Linked DNA regions of Homo sapiens: region 1 is linked to region 2. A link means that fine-mapping ties the variant in region 2 to the expression of a gene that starts in the linked region. Tissue or cell type: pancreas. Region 2 holds a variant in brackets; the other region holds the start of a gene. All regions are shown on one strand. Distances are between the middles of the regions.

The links.
Region 1: it holds the start of TATDN2, and the variant in region 2 is fine-mapped to the expression of TATDN2 in pancreas (GTEx, PIP above 0.99).

The regions. Positions count from the first base shown.
Region 1 is chr3:10,241,255-10,256,840 of GRCh38, forward strand. TATDN2 (TatD DNase domain containing 2) reads left to right here and starts at 7,205. Exons shown (of 8, transcript NM_014760.4): 1 at 7,205-7,813; 2 at 7,941-8,360. The coding sequence starts at 7,947. IRAK2 (interleukin 1 receptor associated kinase 2) reads left to right here. Exons shown (of 13, transcript NM_001570.4): 13 at 862-2,491. The coding sequence ends at 974. RefSeq lists silencers at 1,302-1,371, 7,091-7,520 and an enhancer at 7,773-8,641.
Region 2 is chr3:10,280,730-10,289,716 of GRCh38, forward strand. GHRL (ghrelin and obestatin prepropeptide) reads right to left here. Exons shown (of 6, transcript NM_016362.5): 5 at 5,975-6,083; 6 at 4,937-5,165. The coding sequence ends at 5,146. It overlaps GHRLOS (ghrelin opposite strand/antisense RNA), which reads left to right and starts at 223. Exons shown (of 6, transcript NR_073568.1): 1 at 223-273; 2 at 2,792-2,874; 3 at 5,019-5,124; 4 at 6,685-6,752; 5 at 7,273-7,373. It overlaps LINC00852 (long intergenic non-protein coding RNA 852), which reads left to right and starts at 3,690. Exons shown (of 1, transcript NR_026829.1): 1 at 3,690-5,017. It overlaps TATDN2 (TatD DNase domain containing 2), which reads left to right. Exons shown (of 8, transcript NM_014760.4): 8 at 1-489. RefSeq lists enhancers at 6,256-6,550, 7,416-8,031. The variant A/G (reference allele first, on the strand shown) is at 4,273.

The DNA of each region.
Region 1 (15,586 bases), 36 kb before region 2:
GCAAAAATTAGCCAGGTGTGGCCAGCCAGGCATGGTGACTCACGCCTGTAATCCTAACACTTTGGGAGGCTGAGGCGGGCGGATCACGAGGTCAGGAGATCGAGACCATCCTGGCTAAGATGGTGAAACCCCGTCTCTACTAAAAATACAAAAAATTAGTTGGGCGTGGTGGTGGGCGCCTATAATCCCAGCTACTCAGGAGGCTAAGTCAGGAGAATTGCTTGAACCCAGGAGGCAGAGGTTGCAGTGAGCCGAGATTGAGCCACTGCACTCCAGCCTGGGCAACAGAGTGAGACTCCATCTCAACAAATGATAAATAAATAAATAAATAAATAAATGGGCTGGGTGCTGTGGCTCACAGGCCGGGCGTGGTGGCTCACGCCTGTCTGTAATCCTAGGACTTCGGGAGGCCGAGGCGGGTGGGTTGCCTGAGCTCAGGAGTTCAAGCCTAGTCTGGGCAACACGGTGAAACCCCTTCTCTACTAAAACACAAAAAAATTAACTGTGTGTGTCGTCCAGCCTGAGCAACAGAGTGAGACTCCATCTCAAAAAAAAAAAAAAAAAAAAAAAAAGCCAGGTGTGGTTGTGCACGCCTGTAGTCCCTGCTACTCCGGAGACTGAGGTGGGAGGATCACCTGAACCTGTGAGGTCAAGGTTGCCTTGAGCTGAAATTGTGCCACTGCACTCCAGCCTGGGCAACAAAGTGAGACCCTGTCTCGATAAAAAAAAAAGAAAAAAAAAAAAAGAAATGCTCATTACACTCAGGGCCTGATTCAGAAACCTGATTTAAGTGACTTTAAGAATTATAATAATAGTAACTTTCATTCAAGTCGCTCTTGTTTGCTTTCTGTTGAACATCAGTTACAGAAACTTCGTGGCAAATTGAGATCAATGAGGCCAAAAGGAAACTGATGGAGAATATTCTGCTCTACAAAGAGGAAAAAGTGGACAGCATTGAGCTCTTTGGCCCCTGATGACCGGAACACAGCTGAGGACCCTTGTCCTCAGTTGGAAAGATGAGCATCAGATCAAGAAAAAGGTCTGAGGCAGAATCCAAGATCTGCCAGGAAACACACAACAAAACATCTGCTGTCCTGGGTGGGAGGGAAACTTCATTTCACTGGAATGAGTTGGGAGAGAAAGGCCCTCAGCTTTTAGAGACACAAAAATCCATGAAGTCTCTTCCTTTCTGGGCTTTGTTAGTCAGAGCAGGGGATCAGAGGAGACTGAAGCAGAAACCCTGCACACGGGCCCAGGATGTGGCTGATTTTGTGGTTCCGGGGAGTATGTGATGATAATCACCCCCAGCAGATTCCATTACCTCAGCAGCTCTTGTTCCCCCGCCACTGGCAGTTCTGCAATGCCATAGCATTTTCCAGAGCTAAGATCTCTGGGTTGTATTTGCTGACAGCCTGCAAGCTTGCATGCTCTGAAAGATTTTTTTTAGTTTTTAATTTTTTTGTAGAGATGGGGTCTCGCTTTGTTGGCGCAATCCTCCCACCTCAGACTCCCAAAGTGCTGGAATTACAGTTGGGAGCCACTGTGCCTGGCCTGGAAGACTTTCAACTTGTGTCTCAGTGCAGTTCTTGACTCACCTCTCTGGGCCTCAGGTTCTACAAATGCCAGACACCTAGCGAAGAGCTCTGCAGGCTTTCCACTGCCTGTATTGGAAATCTTGCAATTCACATAATTATTCAGTCACTGCCTGGTACCTTTATCTTCCCATCCCACTAATGTTAGTGTTTTTTAATGGAGCTTTTATTCTGAGAATATGTGTTTGTCTGTTTGTTTGTTTTTTGAGACAGAGTCTCACTTTGTCACCCAGGCTGGAGTGCAGTGGCACGATCTCAGCTCACTGCAAGCTCTGCCTCTCAGGTTCAAGTGATTCTCCTGCCTCAGCCTCCTGAGTAGATGGGACTGTAGGCACCTGCCACTATGCCTGGCTAATTTTTGTGTTTTTAGTAGAGACAGGGTTTCACCATATTGGCCAGGCTGGTCTCGAACTACTGACCTCGTGATCTGCCCGCCTTGGCCTATCAAAGTGTTGGGATTACAGGCTTGAGCCACCGCACCCGGCCGAGAATATGTGTTGTTATTTATGACTGGATTATGAAGAATCAGGAGAATGCATTTCATGTCTGATTCTGCTGCTAATTAAGTCAATCATTTAATTTTTGGGACCTCAGTTTCTTTGTAAGTAAAATAACACCTGCTTGTTCTTCATCCCTGGGCTGTTGGGAGGAACAGATGAGACAGTGGCTATAGAAGCACTTGGAAAATGCACTTGTCCTGTTTTGTAAAATAAAAAGGTATTAAATGTGTATTTCTGCCATGTACCTAATGATTATTCAGTGCGTATATATCTGAAAAGTCATGTTGCAAATCTTTCTGTGAAACAGATGCTATTTTAAATTCACTGGGAGAAATATCCTATTTAAAGTAATCTATAGTAATTTCTTTTTATATAATAAAAATATATTTGTAAAGTCGACAGACAACTTGTAATTAGTTTTGTGTCTGGAAGAATTTGTTTAGAGAAGGCACTCTGTATCCTTGAGATGGGGTAGCAAAGAGCTAGGATCCTGGCTCTTACTGTTGACTGTTAATAGCTGCATGATCTTGGGCCCAGTTAGGGAGTTACTCTGAGGCTCTGTTTCCTCATCTGTACAATGGGAAAAAGAAAACGTACGCATCTTGTAGGGTTGTTGTTGGATGGGTCCTGCCTGGTGAAACATTTGGCAGCTCCCCAGTAAGGACAGCTTTGGCTTGATGTGTGATGTAGCTGAGCTGGGTCCCAGTCCAGGTGGACAGTGATCTATACAGACAGCCCTGTCTTCAGCTCTGGTGTCTGTGAGGATTCAAGGTGAATGTGCATTTTGTGCCCCAAATGGGACCTGGCCTGTTGCGAACACTTTACAATTATAAGCAGAGTGTTTCCAGGGCTGTTTGCGCAATAGAGGGCTGACACCAATAGGTTTGTGGTTATCCAGACATACTTACATTTCTAGACTAGGATTTCATATATTTTTGGAGAAGTCAGTAAATCCCCTTGGGACTTGGATGAAAGCTCTAGACCTTTGCTACATACAGACATACATACATATGCGTTCTGAGTCCATGAATTCCAGACCTTCATGGGCACCATGATGTCTTTTCATGGATCCCCCGTAGGGAAGCCCTGAATTATTTTTTTTTAGGTTAATAGAGGATTTAAAAATCTAAACAGTACAAAGGTTCCATGGTGAGAAGGCAGGCTTTTTCTCAATGGGATCTTAGTCTCCAGTTTCTTGTTCCCAAAGGCAACCACTGTCACTAGGTTGGAGTATCCTTCCAGAGGTGATGGAAAACAGAGGTGATGCTCAACTTAGTCATCAGGGAAATGCAAATCAAGACCTCTATGAGATGCCACTTCACATTCACTAGGATAGCTATAATCAAAAAGACAAAAACAAGTGTTGGCCATGATGTGGAGAAATTGGAGCCCACACACACTGTTGGTGGGAATTGAAAATGGTGAGCACTTTGGAAAACAGTTTGGCACTTCCTCAAAAGGTAAGAATTTCCATATGACCTAGCAATTCTACCCCTAGGTATCTACCCAAGAGAAATGAAAACATGTCCACACAAAAGCCTGCACACCAATGTTTATAACAGCCAAAAAATAGGAACAACCTAAATATCCATCAACTGATAAGTGGATACATGAAATGCGGTCTATTCATGCAATGGAATATTCAGCCATAGAAAAGAATTAAGTACTTGTGAAAAGTAAAGTAGAGGTTCCTCTTCAAAGACTTTCCTCCCCATCTAATTAGGAATAAATAGTAACTTCTCTTAGAAGCAAAATTTATTCAAAGACCTAACATTCTTAAATACCTGCTAGCCATAATAAATCAATGTACTTTATGTTCTTAACTCCCACAATTTAGCCTAAATATTTGCCCTGGCACGGTTATACTGGTGCAAGCAAGCATTAAGTCATAGCCTGTTCCTCTTCCTTATTTGAAAGTGTTTTTACCTTTCTCAGCATTCCACAAGTTACTTCCTCCTTCCTTTGTTCTCCTCTGCTTTTGCCTCTGAAAAAATTCTAAGTTGTTAGCCAATCAAGACAAATACAGAATGTGAAGTCCCGTTTCAGCCAATGGAAACTGGACCCAGAGGTAGGGTGGATACGTCAGGTTATAAATGACCCTGTCTCCTTTGTTGGGTGTACTCGTGGCAAAACTGCTGGCGAGTGTACCCTTTCTGCAGAAAGTGTAAAAATGGCCTTGCTGAGAAAATTATTTATGTTCAAGTGCTATTTCTTTATGGCACTGGGGAACAAGCATTTCAAACATACTGACACGTTACAACATGGATGAACCTTGAGATCATGGTAAGAAAAAGCAAGTCACATATTGTATGATTCCATTTTTAATTTTTTCAGAATAGGCAAATCTATCAAGACAAACTAGATTACAGTCTTGCTGAAATTACAGGAGTGAGCCACCAGGCCAGCTGGTCATACACCTGTTTTCTTTCTTCTTTTTTGTTTTGAGACAGAGTCTCCCTCTGTTGCCTAGGCTGGAGTGCAATGGCACGATATTGGCTCATTGCAACCTCTGCCTTCCAGATTCAAGCGATTCTACTGCCTCAGCCTCCTGAATAGCTGGGATTACAGGCACATGCCACCATGCCCTACTAATTTTTGTATTTCTTTTTAGTAGAGATGGGGTTTCACCATATTGTTGAGGCTGGTCTTGAACTCCTGACCTTGTGATCTGCCCACCTTGGCCTCCCAAATTGCTGGGATTACAGGCGTGAGCCACCATGCCTGCTGCTCATACACTTTAAATGAGTGAACTTTATGGTATATAAATTATATCTTAAAGCTGTTAGAAAGGAACACACAAAGTGGTTACCCTCAGGCATTTGAAAAAAGAAAGCCACATTTACCTTTGTATGCCACTCCTCTCTATTTAGCCACACATGTGTTTTGTTAATGCTTTTCTAGGTCCTTTGTTTTTTCATGTCTTTCTTGGCTATTGCTCCTCAACAGTAAGTTTAGATCACTTCATTCTTTTTGCCTTACATTCCATTGTATGGATATTCCTTAATGTATATAACCAGCTGATAGAGATTGAGGTTTTGTTTTCATTCTAGCTACTACAGACAATGCCACCTTCCAAGGAGATTGTATCAATTAACACGTTCATCAGGGATGTATGGGAGTGCATTTCCTCACATCCTCAGCCACAAGGTATATTATCCTGCTTTTTTTTTTTTTTTGAGATGGAGTCTTGCTCTGTTGCCCAGGCTGGAGTGCAGTAGCGTGATCTTGGTTCACTGCAAGCTCTGCCTCCCGGGTTCACACCATTCTCCTGCCTCAGCCTCCTGAGTAGCTGGGACTACAGGCATCTGCCACCAGGCCCGGCTAATTTTTGTTTTTTTTTTTGTATTTTTAGTAGAGATGGGGTTTCACCATGTTAGCCAGGATGGTCTCGATCTCCTGACCTCGTGATCCACCCACCTCGGCCTCCCAAGGTGCGGGGATTACAGGCGTGAGCCACCGCACCCGGCCCCTTACCTTGTTTTTTGATTATTGCCAATCTAACGAGTGGAAAATTATAATTTTATATGTACTTTTTAATTTAATTTAATTAATTAATTTTTTTTTTTTAGAGACGGAGTCTCTCACCCAGGCTGAAGTGCAGTGGCGCAATCTTGGCTCACTGCAAGCTCCACCTCCTGGGTTCACGCCATTCTCCTGCCTCAGCCTCCCGAGTAGCTGGGACTACAGGCGCCTGCCACCACGCCTGGCTAATTTTTGTATTTTTAGTAGAGGCGGGGTTTCACCGTATTAGCCAGGATGGTCTCGATCTCCTGACCTCGTGATCTGCCCGCCTTGGCCTCCCAAAGTGCTGGGATCACAGGCGTGAGCCACCACACCTGGCCTTACATGTACTTTTTTAATGGTTGAGGTGGAGCCATCTTTCTTATATTTAGGAGCGTTTCATGATTTGTTTTTGTTCATTGCTTCCTTTGCCTTTTTTTTTTTTTTTCCCTGAGACAGGGGTCTCACTTTGTCTCCCTGGCTGGAGTGCAGTGGCAGTAATCTTGGCTCACTGGACCCTCGACTTCCCAGGCTCAAGGGATCCTCCCACCTCAGCCTCCTGAGTAGCTGGGACTACAGGCGCCCACCACCACACCAGGCTAATTTTTGTGTTTCACTAGAGACAGGATTTCACCATGTTGCCCACGCTGGTCTCGAACTCTTTGCCTCAAGAGATCCACCCACCTCGGCCTCCCAAAGTGCTGGGATTACAGACGTGTGCCACTGGACCCAGCCTCCTTTGCCAGTCTTAATACTAAGTTATTTTATTATTTTGGGAGAATTGCTACATCGAATATCAGCCCTTTGTCATATGTTTCGAGTATTTTTCTGAATTTGTACCTTGTCTTTGATTTTTTTTCTTTTTTGAGACAGGGTCTTGCTCTGTCCTCCAGGCTGGAGTGCAGTGGCGGGATCACAGCTCACTGCAGCCTCGACCTCCCGGCCTCAAGTGATCCTCCCACCTCAGCCTGAGTAGCTGGCATCACGCCCAGCTAATTTTATTTTTTGTAGAGATGGGGGTCGCACCATGCTGGCCAGGCTGGTCTCTAACTCCCGAGCTCAAGCCATCCTCCCGCCTCGGTCTTCCAAAGTGCTGAGATTGCAGGCGTGAGACACCGTGCCCAGCCGTCTTTAATATTTTTCACCAGGCGGATAGTTCACATTTTTGTGTAGTCTTTTTTTTTTTTTTTTTGGTGCCTTCTAATTCTAATTCTTCCCATTTCTGGGTGTGTACTTAGTCTCTCTGAGCCACAGTTTTCTGCTCTATAAAGTGGGGTGATAATGCTCAGTACACGGTTTGCTTTGGCTCGATGAGAAATCCAGGTCTGAAAGCTTCAGGTACAGCGGCCGGCGCTGAGGAAAACAGCGTTAAGTGAGGCGCGTCAGCGGACACCACCTGCCTGCACATCTGGCTGGCCTCAACTTCCCGCTGTTCGAGCCCACGTGAGTGGCTCCGCCCCATCTGGCTTCTGACCAATGGACGAGCTTCCTAAGGCGTACCGTCCCGACTCCAAGGCGCCTGGCTTTGAGGCGGGCTGCGTCTTGCTCGGAGTCCCGCCCCTTGCCGGGTCGAGCAATGGGCGCCTTCCGTTTGGCGCAGGCCCCGCCCCTGTCGCTCTCCGGCCTGCGGGCCGCAGGGCTCGTTCCGGAGGGCGGGCGCCACGGAGGCCGGAGTGGTCGCAGTTCGGGCGGAGGCCGGGCCAGGCGGGGCTGTAGGGCTGGGGCAGGCGGCGGGCTGCCCGGCGGGACAGCTGCGGCAGCCGGCGGGGGGCGTCCTGAGTTGGCGGTCGAGGGCGCTGCCAGCTCCCGAGGGGCCGCTCGGGCCCCTTCCGGCCCGGGTCTGGTTGGGCCGCAGGAGCAGGGCGGGCTGCGGCGCCCGGGTCTGGCCCTGGCCTACGGGCTAAGCGCCCGGCCCCGGGGCCGCGGATCCGGCAGCCATGTGTGGATCTTGAAGCGCCATGTGGTCTTCTGAAGCGCTTGACAGTTCTAAAGGGCTTTATATTGCAAACTGATCAAAGCGCTTCGTAGCCCCGGAAGCGCTTAGGCATCTCCGAAGTAGCGCTGGGCAAAGTGAAGGCTTCCTGATCTCAGAAGCACGTTGTGGGCTTGGAAACCGACGGCAGCCTTTAGTCAATTTTGGATCGCTTTGACTTCTCCAACACGGTTTGGCATCTCTGAAACCTTGAGAACTGTGATGGGCAGTGGAAAGAAGAGGGAAAGGTCAGTGAGGCTAGCCCCTGGCTCTGCCCTTATGTCTTGCCGTCCTCCTGGGCCCGGGGTGGCGGGAATCTGAGGTGGGGTCGCCAGGAAGGGTGGTGTTGGAATCCAGGCCCCCTGTACCTTGCAGGTGCCCATGGCGTCCGAGCGGGGCAAGGTCAAGCACAACTGGAGCAGCACGTCGGAAGGGTGTCCCCGCAAGCGCAGCTGCCTCCGGGAGCCCTGTGATGTGGCCCCCTCCAGCCGGCCAGCTCAGAGGTCTGCGTCGCGTTCTGGAGGGCCCAGCAGCCCCAAGCGCCTGAAAGCCCAGAAGGAGGACGATGTGGCTTGCTCGCGGAGGTTATCCTGGGGCTCATCCCGCCGCAGAAATAACTCCTCCTCCTCCTTCTCCCCACATTTCTTGGGCCCTGGTGTGGGCGGGGCCGCCTCCAAAGGCTGCCTGATTCGGAACACTCGGGGGTTCCTGTCTTCAGGGGGATCCCCTCTGCGTCCTGCCAACGCCTCTTTGGAAGAAATGGCTTCTCTAGAGGAGGAAGCCTGCAGCCTTAAGGTAGGTGGCTGCCACGCTTTGCAATCGGTGAAGCCCCTTCCACATGGCTTGAGAGGTTGGGGATGGGAATTTTGGTGGAAGGAGACTACAAAACATTACATCCTTGAAGGTCTGGAAGGTCTTTCTAGAAGTCCACTCCCCCCAAACTCGAAGACCTAGCAGTCTTCCAGGCGCGTGGCCTGAAGTTAAGTAGAGAGGTAATTTTCAAACTCGGCAGCACTTTGGAACTACTTGGAAAGCTTTAAAATACTTGGGCCTGCCTCCTACTCCAGAGAAACTGATTTATTGGGCTGAGGTGTGGTCTGGGCTTCCAGATTTTTCAGTGCTCCCCAGGTTATTGTAAACGTGCAGCCCCGTTGGAGAATCACTGCAGTAGAAGGTGGATTATGTGCTCAAGAGAAGAATGTATTTATTTTAGTTGTCAGTTTAAAGAATTGTGTGCCCTTGTACTTTGAACCACTCTGAATCACAGAACCAAGAATTGCGGTTCTTGGTGTAGCTTTTCTCCAAAGTCATAGTTTCCAGCATGTTGGGGTTTTGCTTGGTGGTGCTAGTTTTTTTTTTTTTTCTTTTTTTTTTGGAGGTTAAATTGTTAATTCCCTAATGGAAACATGCAAGAGGGTTTCATAAGTACTTTGAGCAGACCAAGGAGTGCTTCACAGAGAAGATACATTTCGCTCATCTACTCAATCAAGGCTTTGAACAAATATGTGTTGAGGGTTTAGTTTGTGCCAGGCAATGTTCTAGGTGTTTGGGATTCTTTACTAACAAAACAGATCACTTTCCCCTTAGAGTTTGCATCCTAGATTTTGAAGGTCTGAGTCTTAAGAAGTGAGAAGTTCTGCCTGTGGAGGAGTGGAGAAACAGTCTTATTTGGGATCAGATGGGCTGCCTCTAGAGAAAATTACTTTACAAAAGCAATTAAAACAGGCCCTAAGGAATATGTGTTTGTTTTTAAGCCTAGCCTTGGTGGTTTCTTTTGTGTAGCTGAGAAAGGAGGCTGTATTTGACTGTTTGTCTTGGGGACTCATAGGCTAAGTGCCCCTGGTTTTTTCAATGTGGACCTCACTGTCTGAACTCTTGTGTGGGCACGTGGATTTTTTCTTTTTAAATTCACAAATAACAGTGAGTTGAAAAGCCCTGTCTCTAGCGTAGGAATGCTGAATTTGTCTCAAATCAGGTAAGTATGGGACTTTGCTCATACAAGTTAATCTTGCCATTAATCCTTGATACAATTTCAGTAGACTTGGGTACAGCATAAAATAATACCAGTTGATTCAATTTAGCTTCACTGACAATTTGTAGATAGAGTGAAACCTGTTACTGGGAGAGGCAGGAAATTTACTTTACATAGTCTTTCAGGTGTGCTGAATCCCTGGCTGTCCTAAAGACCTGGAACTCAGGTTTGAGGGTGTGGTCTCTAATCTGGGTGGGTCTAATTGTAGGTGGACCCACCTTTCTCTCATTAAGGCTAAAGGGGCCTTGTTTTGCAAGAACCCAATTTAATGGTTTCAGTAGAAGCACTTGAGGGTTATTGTGGGCCACGCACTGTTGGGTCTGGGAGTGATGAGCTTCTAGGGAGCAGTCTGGTGGGAGGGCTGGAGGAGTGGTCGCATGACTGCCCACAATGTGGTATGATGGAGTAGTGAGCCCAGAATGGAGGCTGGAGAGCGAGGTAGGGGGTGGATTGCAGCAAGGTTTTAGTAGCCAAGGGAATTTGGATTTTATCCTAAGGACAATGGATTTTATTCTAAGGGACAATTCCCTTAGAATTGTATTCTCTTTTTTTGAGACAGATTCTTACTGTGTCACCCAAGGTAGACTGCAGTGGCATGATCTCTGCTCACTGCAGCCTCCACCTCCTGGGTTCAAACAATTCTCCTGCCTCAGCCTCCCAAGTAGCTAGGACTACAGGTGTGCGCTACCGTGCCCAGCTGATCTTTGTATTTTTAGTGGAGATGGGGTTTCGCCTTGTTGGCCAGGCTGGTCTCTAACTCCTGACTGCAAGTGATCTGACCGCCTCAGCCTCCCAAAGTGCTGGGATTACAGGTGTGAGCCACCATGCCCGGCCAATTGTATTCTTATTTTAAAAAAATTATTTTATTTTTTTGAAACGATTTCCCAGGCTGAAGTGCAGTGGCGCAATCATGTCTCACTGTAGCCTCAAACTCCTGGGGTCAAGCAATCTTCTTAAATAGGTGAGAATATGGGCATGTGCCACCACACCCTGCAGATTAAAAATTTTTTTTTTGGGCTGGGCGTGGTGGCTCACGCCTGTAATCCCAGCACTTTGGGAGGCCGAGGTGGGCAGATCACGAGGTCAGGAGATTGAGACTACCCTGGCTAACACGGTGAAACCCTTTCTCTACTAAAAATACAAAAAGTTAGCCGGGCATGGTGGCGGGTGCCTGTAGTCCCAGCCACTTGGGAGGCTGAGGCAGGAGAATGGCATGAACCCAGGAGGCAGAGCTTGCAGTGAACCGAGATCAAGGCACTGCACTCCAGCCTGGGCAACAGAGTGAGACTCAGTCTCAAAAAAAAAAAAAAAAAAAAATTTTTTTTTTTGTAGAGATGAAGATCTCACTGTGTTGCCCAGGCTGGTCTCAAACTCCTGGGCTCAAGCTGTCCTCTTGCCTTGTCCTCCCAAAGCGCTGGGATTAGAGGCATGAGCCACTGTGCCAGCTGGATTGTCTTCTAAGCAATTAGAGAATTTATACAGGGCTCTACACAGAAAAGGAAATTGCATTGTAGAAAGATCACTCTTGTCGAGTGAGGGTTTTTATATTACCCTGATTGTCCATCTCTAGGACTGCTGAAGTCTCTTCCTGGAGTATATGTTTGTCAGTTTAAAAACCAAGTGTACAGTACTTGACTCATCTTGATGAATTACAAAACACCTCTTACCTTCCACCTTCATCTGTACCTCTTCCTCCCTTGCTCTGTGGTCATCTGTGAACTTATCTGTCCTGGTCCTAAGTCCTTCAGCAAGCACAGCCGAGGGGTACTCACAAAAATGGCATGTTCATCCTCAGGTCCTTCTAGAGTCCTCTCACTGCTCTCCTGTGTCTGCTCTGTAAACTTTTTTTTTTTGTTTGAGACAGGGTCTTGCTCTGTCACCCAGGCTGGAGTGCACTGGCATGATCATAGCTCACTGCATCTCAACCTCCTGGGCTCAAGCGATCCTCCTGCCTCAGCCTCCCAAGTAGGTGGAACTCAGGCGTGTGCCAACCTGCCTGGCTAATTTTTTTTTTTTTTTTTTTGAGACAGAATCTTGCTCTGTCACCCAGGCTGGAGTGCAGTGGTGCAATCTCGGCTCACTGCAAGCTCCGCCTCCCGGGTTCACGCCATTCTCCTTCCTCAGCCTCCCCAGCAGCTGGGACTACAGGTGCACGCCACCATGTCCGGCTAATTTTTTTGTATTTTTAGTAGAGATGGGGTTTCACCATGTTAGCCAGGATGGTCTCGATCTCTTGACCTCGTGATCCGCCTGCATAGGCCTCCCAAAGTGCTGGGATTACAGGCGTGAACCACCGCGCCTGGCCTGCCTGGCTAATTTTTTGTGTTTTGTAAAGACAAGAGTCTCCCTATGTTGACCAGGCTGGTCTCAATCTCCTGGGGTCAGGCAGTCCTCCCACCTTGGCCTCCCAAAGTGCTGGGATCACAGGCATGAGCTACTGTGCCTGGCCTTGCTCTGTAAACTTTGAGGGTTACACAGTTGACTTTGTTCCCTTCTCCCACCAGCCTTTAACACATCTTTCTCTGTGCCAGGTCACAGAATATTCTGAGGGGAAGGTGTTAGACTGGTCATTTTAGAATCGGTAGAGATCCCTGCTGGCTGACCTCACATCGTTCCCTTCTTACCTCCAGGACAGTTGGAGATGTTTCATGTTAGCTGATGATCTTCATTTACTCTTCACAGAGGAGACTAACTGTGTGACGAGCACCTTCATGTAGTAAAGATTATTTTTACTATGACATCTAAATGTCTACATTCAATTTAGAGTTGAAAGAATGGAAGGGAAAATTTGAGCATGTATGATAAGGCTTGGTCAACTATGATTCTCGATGTTTGATCTATAGACTATCACATAATCCCAAAAGTGTCGTGAAGTAGGTGGTATTATCTCCACATATCCATTAGTAAATACCTTCATATCAATTAACAAATATTTAAGCACCTACTCTGTGTAGGCACTGGGCAGATGAGATTCAGAAAGGTTAAATAAGCTGACCAAGGCCATGCAGCTGGTAAATGGCCGAGCTGTGGGGTAATATCAGATTAGTCCAACTTCAAAGCCAGTGTTCTCTGCACTGCTGCCTCTGGGAGCACCTGCTCTGTTCTAGCCTGGCATCAGATGTAGGGGTGGCAAGACGAAGGTGCCAGGGTCCCTCCCTTGCGGAGCTCTCTGCAGGGTGAGTTAGCCCAGGCACAGTAAAGCACTGGGTATTGAGGCTCTTGAGTGATAGAGCTTTTGCACATCCCCTTTCCTGCATCTCCACTTGGCACATGTCTAGTGCACACGTGGAACACCAGGCTTGGGGCTGTTGTTGCCAAGGACAATCGGGCCATGCTTCACAGACTGAGAAGTCACTCACCACGGGGCAGTGAGTGGAGAGCTGTAACAGGGATGGGTTTGGAGTACCCAAGGGTCAGGGGAATGAGCGACTGACCATCAGGAAGGTCCTCACAGAAGAGGTGACATCTGAGTCTTACTGATGGACAAGGAGGGGGACAGGACATTTCGGGCATAGGGAGCAATACATGCCCAAAATGTCAGGAAATGCTGCTTGTCTGGAGTGCTTGGGGCACTGCTGGCCCTCCCTTCTCTCATCCGTGCTCTCCTGCGTTCCCTGGACACTTGCGTGTTTGGAGGAAGGCAGGAGATGAGGCTAGACAGGAAGGCTGGGGCCAGTCTGTGAAGGGTTCCTGATGAGCTCAGGGGTAGGGATTATTCTGTAGGCAAATGTGGAGCCCTGGAAGGGTTCTAAACTAAGGCTGAAGTGGTGGGGTTTGCATTTTAGAGCTCCTCTGGCACGCTGCAGAGAAAGGGTAGGAGGGAGAAGACAGGGAGCTGGTGAGGAGCTGTTGAAATCCTTCAGGCTACTGGTGATAGGGCTGGAGCAACATCTCCACTTATCTTTCCTTCTTTCCTTTGGAGATGCACAGTTCACCAAGCAGTGCTTCCAGGAAGAACGAACTCTCCCCTTTATGAAGTCAGGTGGTTTGTCTCTTACCTTCTGCCCATGGTCTACCTACTTCTTACCTTTAGAGCCAACTGTCACCTGCTGAAACTCATCCTCGGTGTCGTTGATCCATCTTAGGTCCTCCAGCCTAGGAGAGTGTTTCTCACTTTCTCTCTTTTTTTCCCCCTTCCCCCTTCCTCCTTCCCACTTCCCACTCCCCCTCCCCCTCCCCCTCCCTCCTTTCCTGTCTGTCACCCAGGCTGAAGTGCAGTGGTGCAATTGGCTCACTGCATCCTTGACCTCCTGGCTCAGGTGATCTTCCTGCCTCAGCCTCCCAAGTAGCTGGGACTACAGGCGTGCACCACCATGCCCAGCTAATTTTTCTGTATTTTTTGTAGAGAGGGGTTTTTTTGCCATGTTGCCCAGGCTGGTGTTGAACTTGTGGGCTCGAGTGATCTGCCTGCCTCAGCCTCCCAAAGTTCTGAGATTATAGGCAGGAGCCACCATGCCCAGCCAACAGTGTTTCTCACTTTCATATTTCATTACTCCTTTCCCTTGGCTTCCAGGATGTTAGGGAGAACTTGAGTTTGAATCCCGGTTCTGCCACTTACAAGCCATGTAGCAGTTTCACTTTCTGTAAAAGAAGTATGACGGCTGTAGCACTTCTGTAAATTGTAAATCTGTATGAAAATATAAGGTATATTATTATACTCCTAATTTTTTTTTTTCTCCCCCAACTCCAGTCTTGGTCTTCACAACCAGAGGTGGCAAAACTGCTGGTCTGTGGACTGGATGTAGCCTGCTAGGTCCTTAACAGTATTTACATTTTGAGACAATTCACATTAAGAATTTATGACTCCAGGCTGGGTGCGGTGGCTCATGCCTGTAATCCCAGCACTTTGGGAGGCTCAGGTGGGCTGATCACTTGAGGCTGGGAGTTTAAAACCAGCTTGGCCAACATGGAGAAACCTCGTCTCTACCAAAAATACGAAATGTAGCTGGGTGTGGTAGCACATGCCTGTAATCCCAACTACTCAGGAGGCTGAGGCAGGAGAATCACTTGAACCTGAGAGGCGGAGGTTGTAAGTGAGCTGAGATGGCGCCACTGTACTCCGGCCTGGGCGACAGAGTGAGACTGTCTCAGAAAATAGAATTTATGACTCCAGTCTAAGTCCCTACCTTGAACTGAAGAATTGAATGACATCACCTCCCCATTTTATGTCCTCTTTTCTTATTTTGTTTTTCTCCTTGGCAGTTATCACTCTCTAACATACATATTTCACTTGTCTTACCTTTCTCCTGGTTTTCCCTTCCCTTACCAGCTAAAATGTGAGCTCCAGGAGGCAGACGTTCTTGTGTGTTATTACTATTATTTTTTTTTTTGAGACAGCGTCTCCAAAAGTTTGGAGCGTCTCCACAGGCTGGAGTGCAGTGGCACAAGCTCGGCTTACTGTGACCTTGACCTTCCACACTCAAGCAATCCTTCTGTCTCAGCTCCTGGAGTAGCTGGGACTACAGGTGTGGGTCACTGCACCCAGCTAATTTTTGTATTTTTCTTGTACAGATGGGGTCTTGCTATGTTGCCCAGACTGGTCTTGAACTCCTAGGCTCAAATGATCCTCCTGCCTTGGCCTCCCAAAGTGCTGGAATTGCAGGCATGAGCCACCACACCCAGCCTTGTTTTTTTTTTTATTGAACGCTAAACCCACAGGTCCAGAACCGTGCCTGCTGGCACAGAGTAAGTGCTTAGTAAGTGCTTGCTTAATGGTTGAAAAGTGCACTAAATTCAATATTTCTGGTTTTACTTGAAAGAAACAGAATCTCTAACTCTGATTCTCTACTCTCAAATGGCACCAGTTAGAGGTGAGGAGCAGCTGCCCGTCTGAGGGTGCAGATACTCCTCAGTTTGTTGCAGATCTCACCCTCTGTGTTGTATATGTGGCTACAGCGGGAGCAGAGGGCAGGGGTGGAGAAGCAGTCAGTGGAGATGGGGCCTTAACAGACAGGTGGGAACACAAAATGGGACGGAGGCAAGGACATGG
Region 2 (8,987 bases):
TGTGCTGTTATGTTGTCTGTGCTGCAGATTGGCCCATGTGGGAAGTCGGGGGGGACCTGATTTCCTGCTTGGAAGACTTGGGGGACTGCCGAGCATATCAAAGTGTTTATAGTCACCAAGTGAACTGCAGCACAACCATCTCCTCTCCAGCAAGCCCTGAAGTCAGTAGTGCCTGCAGGTGAAACCAACCAGCCCTGTGTTAGAGGAGGAAAAGCGGAGATGACATGGAAGTCTCCAAGCCTGTGCCATCCACCTGCCAAGGAAAAGCACAAGGTGCTATCTACTTTTCTCTCTAGGATTTAGATTATCATTTATGTGCTGTTGCACAGTGAAACCTCACCTGTGTGGGCGTGAAAGCTGATTGGCATTGTTTTTGATTCAGCTTTTTGGATGGCTAATTGTTTTCACTGTGCTGTGGGAATGCCTCTGTATTTTTTCCCCTCTTTGGCCATCTTTTTCTGAAAATAAAGTGATGGATCCTCTAGCCAACCCAGTCTCTCCGTGTTTGTATAGACTTACCTGAGTGATGCAGTGGTTTAGTCTGGTTGTTGGCCAGCATTGTAACCCAAGAATCCAGGTAGCTGGAGACTTTTTTTCTTTCTTTTTTTTTTTTTTTTGAGAAGGAGTCTTGCTCTTTTGCCCAGGCCAGACTGCAGTGGCACTATCTCGGCTCACTGCAAGCTCCGCCTCCTGGGTTCACGCCATTCTCATGCCTCAGCCTCCCAAGTAGCTGGGATTACAGGTGCCTGCCACCGTGCCCGGCTAATTTTTTGTATTTTTAGTAGAGACGGGGTTTCACCGTGTTAACCAAGATGGTCTCGATCTCCTGACCTCGTGATCCACCTGCCTCGGCCTCCCAAAGTGCTAGGATTACAGGCGTGAGCCACCGCGCCCGGCCAGCTGGAGACTTTCTTGAGTATCTATGTGGCTCTCTGTAAAATTAAACTGCATATAAGAATTCTTAAAGTTCGGCCGGGCATGGTGGCTCACTTCTGTAATCCCAGCACTTTGGGAGGCCAGGGCGGACAGATCACTTGAGGTTAGGAGTTCGAGACCAAGCTGGCCAACATGGTGAAACCCTATTTCTACTAAAAATACAAAAACTAGCTGGGTGGGGTGGCACGCGCCTGTAGTCCCAGCTATTCGGGAGGCTTAAGCTGAAGAATCACTTGAACCCGGGAGGTGGAGGTTGCAGTGAGCCAAGATCGCAGCACTGTACCCCAGCCTGGGTGACAGAGCGAGACTCTGTCTTTCCCCTCCCCCCGCCTCCCCCCAGAAAAGAATTCTTAAAGTTCTACAGCCTTAGAGTGTTAAGTAATTTTACTGTCTGGGAACTCAGATGCACTGCTTCTTTCTGACCTATGTAGGTACTTTCTTTTCTTTTTTTTTTGTTTTTTTTTTGTTTCCAGCTCAAGGCTGTAGGAGGAAGAAAAATCTAGTCCCTGGGGGTACTGATGAATCAGTTGGATGGTGGGCGTTGGACTGTGAATTCCTGATGCCTCTGGGTAAACTCTGGAGGAAATTCTGTTTCATTACTTGCACTCAGCCCTCCTATTTTGTACTAAGGTATTCTTGAATACAAGTGCACCGGCCAAAAAAGTAAACTTACGCATAAAAAGAAAGGCTCTCTTCCTTCCAAGAATGCTGAACACCTTTGAAGTCTCTGTTGCTGCCTCATCTTTTAGATACAATCATTGATTATGTATTTTTGGCATCGTCCTGAACTTTGTTTCATTTCCTTCACAGTTGAATGTGCAGTTGGCTTTGTCCACTCAGTGATGGTCCTTGTGACTGTTCTTGGCTTTTCTGTTGTTTTTCCATCTTTCTATAGGAAGCTTGAGACCGATACTCATCGTTTGCTTTCAGCACCTTAATTTTGCTTTGTTCATTTTTGTAAAGTAAGGGCAAATGGCCACCGGAATGTACAGTGATTAAAGAAGCAAACTCTGTCAAAGATGGTGATTAGTGGCCAGCCAGTCCCTCTCAGGATCACTGTATTAAAAAGTGCTCATTTGCCAGTGACATTTTTTTTTGGTTTTGGTTTTTTTTTTTTTTTTTTTTTTTGAGACTGAGTGTCACTCTGTCGCCCAGGCTGGAATGCAGTGGCCTGATCTCAGCTCACTGCAACCTCCACCTCCCAGGTTCAAGTGATTCTCGTGCCTCAGCCTTCTGAGTAGCTGGGACTACAGGCGCCCAATACCATGACTGGCTAATTTTTTTTTTTTTAAATTTTAAGTAGAGATGAGATTTTGCCATGTTGGCCTGTTTGGCCTTATACTCCTCATCTCAGGTGATCCACCTGCCTCGGCCCCCCAAATGCCAGTGACATTTGTAGGTGGATTCAGATTAAGGTGGGTAGCTTAGTTGAGGCGTCTCAACCCTTTTCTGTGCACTCTCTCAAGATGATTTCTGAACACACAACTATAAGTGCATGAGAACTTAAATACGTGTGCTCTTATGCTAATTATACACAAAGTAAAAGTTTTTTCACAAGGAGAATTTTTTTCTCCAGCAAATAGCTCGCTCACCCTAGGGGTACATACACCCCACTTTAGAGACCCTCAAGTTACAGTGGTATCATTAAACGATCCATAAAGGAGTGGGTTTAAGAAAGCTGATACAGGAACATGTTTGAAATAATACATTTTCTCAAGGGTGTCCTCCAACCATTTTCTTTGATAAATTATATTTCTGCCCATTGTTGACTTGAAATTGTCCTCACCCCTCTACCAAGTTCACCCAGTGTATTCTGAAGGAAAATGAATGAATATGGAAACCTCTCTCATCCTAGGCAGTAGAGCGAGGGAAGCTGCACTGGCTGAGAGGCTGTGGAACCGGATGAAAAAGCAGCCCCTGAGTCCTGTGGCGTTGGCTGTGAGTCGGCCACGTGCTTGCTGTGTGCTTTAGGAAAGTTACTTAATTTCTCTGAGCTTTAGTTTTCTCCCTCATAAGTAGGCTTGCTGTGAAAATGAAGTGAAATCACATTAATCTGCATGAGCATTTAACACGGTGCCTGGTGTACATCAGGGGTGTGACAGTGAGTGCTGGCTGCTGTAGTAATTGAATGCTTAGCTACGTGCCGGGCCCTTTGCCAGCTACAGCTCATGTGAGACCTCATGTTCAGTCTTGGCAGTAACCCAGCAAGGTAGGCATTTTACATGTGAGGAGCCTGAGAAATTCAGTCTTGGCCTGGATCACAGAGCTGGTATCCAAATTCAGGTCCGAGGCCAAAGCCCAGATCTTTGCACTACACCTTGTTGCCTGGCACAGGTGAGAGTGCCCAGCCCATAGTGGGTGCGCAATATCTGTTTCTATTTGAATGACCCAGGCAGGCGGTTAATAATGCTTGTGATTTCTTTGAGAGAGAAGTAAGTTCTTGTCTTTGGTGGGGGAAGCATCAGGTGACCAGCATTTGTCCAGAGCCTGGTACCCATCCTCTCCCAAGCCCAATCAGTGGTGCTTTCTCAAAAAGAAACCATCTCCTGACCACTTTGGCCATATTGGGCCTTTGCTCCTCTTCTGTAGCTATTGATAAGAGGGCTGTGGGCAGTTAGTGATAATCAAGGTCGTATCCCAACTAAGTGACAGAGCTGAGACAGTTAAGTTCCAGGACAAGTGTGTTGATCTCTGTACCCACTTGTGCCAGGTGCCTGGGGAGGTAGGGGCATGGCTGTCTGAGGGTGGAGGGGTGAGTAGGGGGCCTGCAGTGTGCTGTGACGCCTGGGAAGGGGATTCTAAGCCATTTCCCATCAGCCGTTTACTAAGTAGCCTGGGGATCTTGTTAAAATGCAGATCCTGATAGATTAGGGCTGGGGTGCTGCCCAAGATTCTACATTTCTAAGAGTCCCTGGATGACGGTGGCATTCACAGACCACAGCTTCTATGTGAGGGAGAGCAGTTGGGTTTCTGTCTGCCTGCCGCACCTGATCAGTAGTTAGTGCCTGCATGTGTGGCGGCCAGAATTTTACTTGGGGAGACGCTCGGCTCCTAGCACCCTCTGTGGTAGGGGTTTTCCAGAGTGTGGGCATTACCCCAACTGTCTCTGCAGACGGCTTCCTGCATGTTTCCCACAAGCGCTCAGATGGCTGAATTGGCAAGTCTGTGGTGCTGCTCTTTGGGGCCACCTCGTTCTTTGCCTTTCCCTCCCCTTAGCGATGTGTCCCATCCGTTGCCTACAGTCAAGTCAGTCCACATGTTTAGGCTAAGGTGGGCATGACCGAGTGGCCTTCCCCCGGGAAGACCAGTGTCGTAACTGGAATTAAGTTGTGGAAC[A/G]TAAGAGTCAAGGCTCGTGTCTGCTGTGAACTGGAGTTGAGGGAATGTTTGGGGATCCCACCTGGTATCAGTAAGGGAACCATGGCGACGGCCAGCCTTGCCCATGTGAGGCATTTGCTTTGTCAGGCCTTCTCAGTAGTGGAGAAGGGAGGAAGGAGAATGCAGCTCTTTCAGTGCTGTCTAGCAGTGCCCAAGAGCCGTGATTGGGCACCTCACTTAACGTCTAACTTCAGATTCACTCTTGGGCATTCCTGTCTTCCTCTCCAATCTTGAATGGATGTTGGCTTCGATAATGTCATCCTGAAGTTTCTTTGTCCACACAGCCCTGGCTGGTTGTTAATAAGCTGTTAATGCAGCCTTGCACTCAGGAAGCCCTGATGTTTAAAGGAACTGTGTCTTTGTTCTTCCTCTCTTCCCTCTTTCTCTTAGTCCCACTTTATCTCTTCTTTCTCTTCCTCTCCCTCCTCCTTTTCCCCTCTCCCTCCTACTCTCCCCCTTTCTCTCCTCCTTCTCTAAGAAACCCAGTCTTAATTCCACACAATGCATGCACATGCAGTAGCTTCTCTGCTTGAGTGAGCTGGTGTGATTAGGTTTTCTAAACATGCACATTGGCCTTGCTACTTGTCCTTTTATTCCCTTCCCACAGACCATAAACCAAGAATTATTTTTATTTGTATTATTTTGATTTTTTTAAAGTAAAATATTAACTTTTCCTCTTTGAAATAAATTCCCATTTGGAACATCAGCATACAGTTTGAACATTTATTCGCCTCCTGAGCTTGTACAACAGTCGTGGGAGTTGCTGCAGAAGCAAGCGAAAAGCCAGATGAGCGCTTCTAAACTTAGAGAGAGGTGAGTAAGGCTTGTGGGCGATCACTTGTCGGCTGGGGCCTCTGGAAAGCAAGAGGTTGAGTAAGAATGCTGGGTGCACCGTCCTGCTAGTGCTTTTCTTCCACGGTGGTGAGATTGGAGGTGGGATGTAATGGTGGGGGTTGTGGGGAAGCACTGGCCTTGGAGTCAGAGGGCGGCACTCAAGTGTGGACTGTTGTGCCCTGGGCAAGTCACCTCAAAGCTCTGAGTCTTGGTTTCCTCGTTTGCACAGCGGGGTGAATGCTACCCCTGCTGTTCCCCAGGGGTGACGGGTCACCGCCTTGGTGAGGACAGTGCTTTGCAGATGTGCAGGTGTTTCTGCCACCTCAATCAGTTGGGCGGTTTCTTTTTTTTCTTTTACAAGGTGAGGGGATTCAAAGCAAACCCTTTGCTTAACTCAGGAAGCTCTAATATTTGAAGGAACTGCTTAACAGGCTGCAGAACCTGTTCTGAGTGCTATTTTGGCACCAATTCCTTTTTGTTTGTGGAGTAAAGTTACGCAGTGAAGACGGTGTAACACCAAATAATTGTAGACTCTCACAATAGGTAAAATAGCTCCATTTTACAGTTAAGGAAGCTGAGGTTCAACTGAGGCCCCAAAGCTAGTTAATGTACTAGTTCTTAGAACATTCTTTGAACACAAAGACTATGATGAACTCCCTTCTGAGCCACTCACAAATACTAGCCAACCACTATCCTGCAGATCTTTGGGAAAGGGAAATTAGAAGTTCTTTTGGAGAGGCAGAGGTTGGGGAAAACTCATCACCCACAGAGTGAACTCCCATGTGGGGCTGCAAGGAAACCGAGCAAACCCAGTCCAGGCAGGACTCACCTTTGGCCTCTTCCCAGAGGATGTCCTGAAGAAACTTCCCCAGGGCCTGGCTGTGCTGCTGGTACTGAACCCCTGACAGCTTGATTCCAACATCAAAGGGGGCGTTGAACTAGGAGGCAGGGCAGGGAGGACCCAGGAGATGTCAGAGGTCATGCCCATCCCCATCTCAAAGGGGGCTCTGGGCTCTCTGCCTCTCTTCAGGAGTGGAGAGGGAGAATGGCCTTTGGGCCCCAGCAGGGACTGCTGAGTGACACCTCAGCCAGGTTCTCTTCCTTTCTCAGGACCACAGCTCACCTTCCCACTCACCATCTTTCAGACACTTACCTTGCACTCTCATGCCTCTCAGCCTTAGCCTCTAATGGGATTGCTGATAAAAGCTGTGGTGCCCCCTAGTGTGAGATTTTTTTTCTCCCTTGCAGTTTTGAAGACAAAAGGTTGAGTCACCAATGGCAGCATTTCAGGCCCTGGCAGGGGGTCTGCCCAGCATTCTCAGCACTGGCCTGCTGGCCTTCTATTCCTTCCCTGCTCCCAGCTCTTTCTCCTTTCTCTCTTGTCTGTTTCTTCTCCTTTTTCTCCTTCCCTAGGTATTTTTTCTCTCATATGCATAGACCTTTCTTTGATGCCTGGAAAATCAAAAGGAAGTTGATGTTTTCCTAGAAAGAGGCTCTGAGCCAAGTCCTTTCTGTGCTTCCATTTCTTCCCCTCTACAGGGAGAGCGCCTCATCTCTTCCATTTTCCAGGTATTCCTGAGATGATTTATTGGAGCTCAAAGCTTTGGGTAAGTGGGAAGGAGCTCTGCTGCAGCCACATGGCAGACTTTCCTTGAGAGCAGAGATTGTCTCTGCCAGTGGCTACCTCGGTGCCTGGCCATATTGGGCACTGACTTATCTGAGTCAGGGAAGGATCTTAGTGCTGGGTCATTTGGTCCTCACAGTAGAAGCCCAAGGAGTTGGAGGCCAAGGACTAGAATGCAGGACTTTTAAACCCACTTGGCCCTGAAAACTGCTTTAGTCCTATTGCCCTTCCTCTGTGTGAGGCCAGGCGTCCTCAGTGCCTCCCTGTGGGGTAGGCGCTACCACTGTGCCCATTTTACAGGTGAGGACAGAGGCGCAGAGAAGCTATTAACCAATAGCTATGCGTTCCCTTTTCGAAATCTCCCTCCCCTTAACTCCACCATGAAGGTGGACCCAGTGGGGAATGACATGATTGAATTTTTTTTTTTTTTTTTTTTTTTTTTTAAGGAGAGTTGGGGCCTTCCATTCCCTCCAGTAAATACTTGTTTTTCTTCCACCGCTGAGGCAAATGCGGGGTGGCTGATCACCTGGCAGACATCTTAGGAAACAGGAGCACCGGTCTGGGAAACTGCTGGCCTGGCCTAACACCTGGCGCTGTGGTGCAGGCAAGTGAGTGGTGACACAGTGCTGGCTGGTGGGGGGCAGCTTCCCTCCTGGCCTCAGTGGCCCATCTGTTCAATGGGAGTGGGACTTGGTCTCCAAAGTCTTCTACTCTGAAACTTGATTTTGGGAGGGAAACGTTTGGGGGGAGGTAGAGGGGCCTGAGATGAGAGAGGTGGGTGGGACACTCGGTTGTGAGGGGTTTGGTAGTGGGGCGCTCCAGGTCTCTGCAGCCACTCCTCTTCTGGCAGCCCCAACACCCCCCAGGCGTTTGACTTCTGGTTCCAGCCAAGGCAGTGTGGGTCACATGCTCCAAGGCTAGCTTTCACAGAAACTGCAAAGTTCCCGCTGTACCAGCCCCACCTTGCGTCGTCAGCCACCAAGACCTCTTTCTCATCTGGGTACTGGGCAGCTCCTCTGGCTGGGATGACCATGTGTGGAGCTAGCCGTCTCACCAGCAAAATATCCTGGTTTTGGCCTAAGGGTATGCAGCTCTTTCAGATGAGAATCTAGTGGATCCCACCGTGTAGAGGAAAGGTCTGAACACCGCCAGGTGCTGGTGAGGATGAAAGCGAGCAGGGGCTGGGGGAGCTTCCGACGGCTTTATTCCTCGACTGGAGAAGAGTATGGTAAACAGGCAGGCAGAGGCCAAGGCGGGCACATTTCACTCCTCTGGAAGGAAGAGGCCTCCCCTGGGCCACTGTGCGCTGTCTCTGTCCATCAGACCAGTGAGGAGGAAGAGGGCTTGGGGACTGGAGTCAGCCCTGACCTTGTGTCGCGTCCCTTCCACACACCGCTGTGGTACCTTGGGCAAGTGAGTTCACCTCTGAACTGTTCCTTGGCTCTAAAGTGGGAGTAATGCCAGCCCTGCTTACCTCACAGGTTGTCGTAGGGAGGAGGTGGGGCAGTTAGAGGTGAAGTTGGTATCCTCGGGCACAGCGTCTAATAGCTGCCATTATTAAGTGCTACCTTGGGGGAATCCTGCCTTAGCTGCGAAATGGTGTCACCAACCAAATATTTAGAAGAAACCATTCCCTGAACCACAGCCACAGGAAGGTTGCATAGAAAACCCCGTAAAATCCTTTACTCCCTCCTCCTCTCCATCCTTGGGTTGTCTTAACTTTCTCCTTGCCCCACGCACGATTTGTCAGAGCACATCACCCACACCTGCCCCCTCCTTGCCTCCAGGCGAGGTGAGTGGGTGCCGGAGCCTGGGCTGGCGCCAGCCCTCCCATCCAGGGTGCTGTTCGGAAGCACTCCACCCCACAGTCCAGGCCCTGGAAGCCCCTGAGTAAAACATGGTTTTCTGCAGAGCAACATCTTCAGTCTGGGCCTGCCGTTTATTTCTGGGTGTCTTTGTCTCTGGGCACTGTATTTTCTGTCCCCTTTGAGTCGCCTGGAGGCTCTGGCACCCTCTCTCCTCTGCCCAGGCTCCTTCCGTCCCTATTCTGTTGTAGCAAAGTTACTTCTTCTAGATATTTTTCTCTTAATGGGTAAAGACCTCACAGAGCCCAGGGCAGAGCTCAACTCCTGTGGTACTGGTTTTATAGTTCTGGGGAGCTTGTAGTTGGGACCCTGTTCACTGCCACCTCTCCCTGCCCTCCCTCTCCCCTGACCCC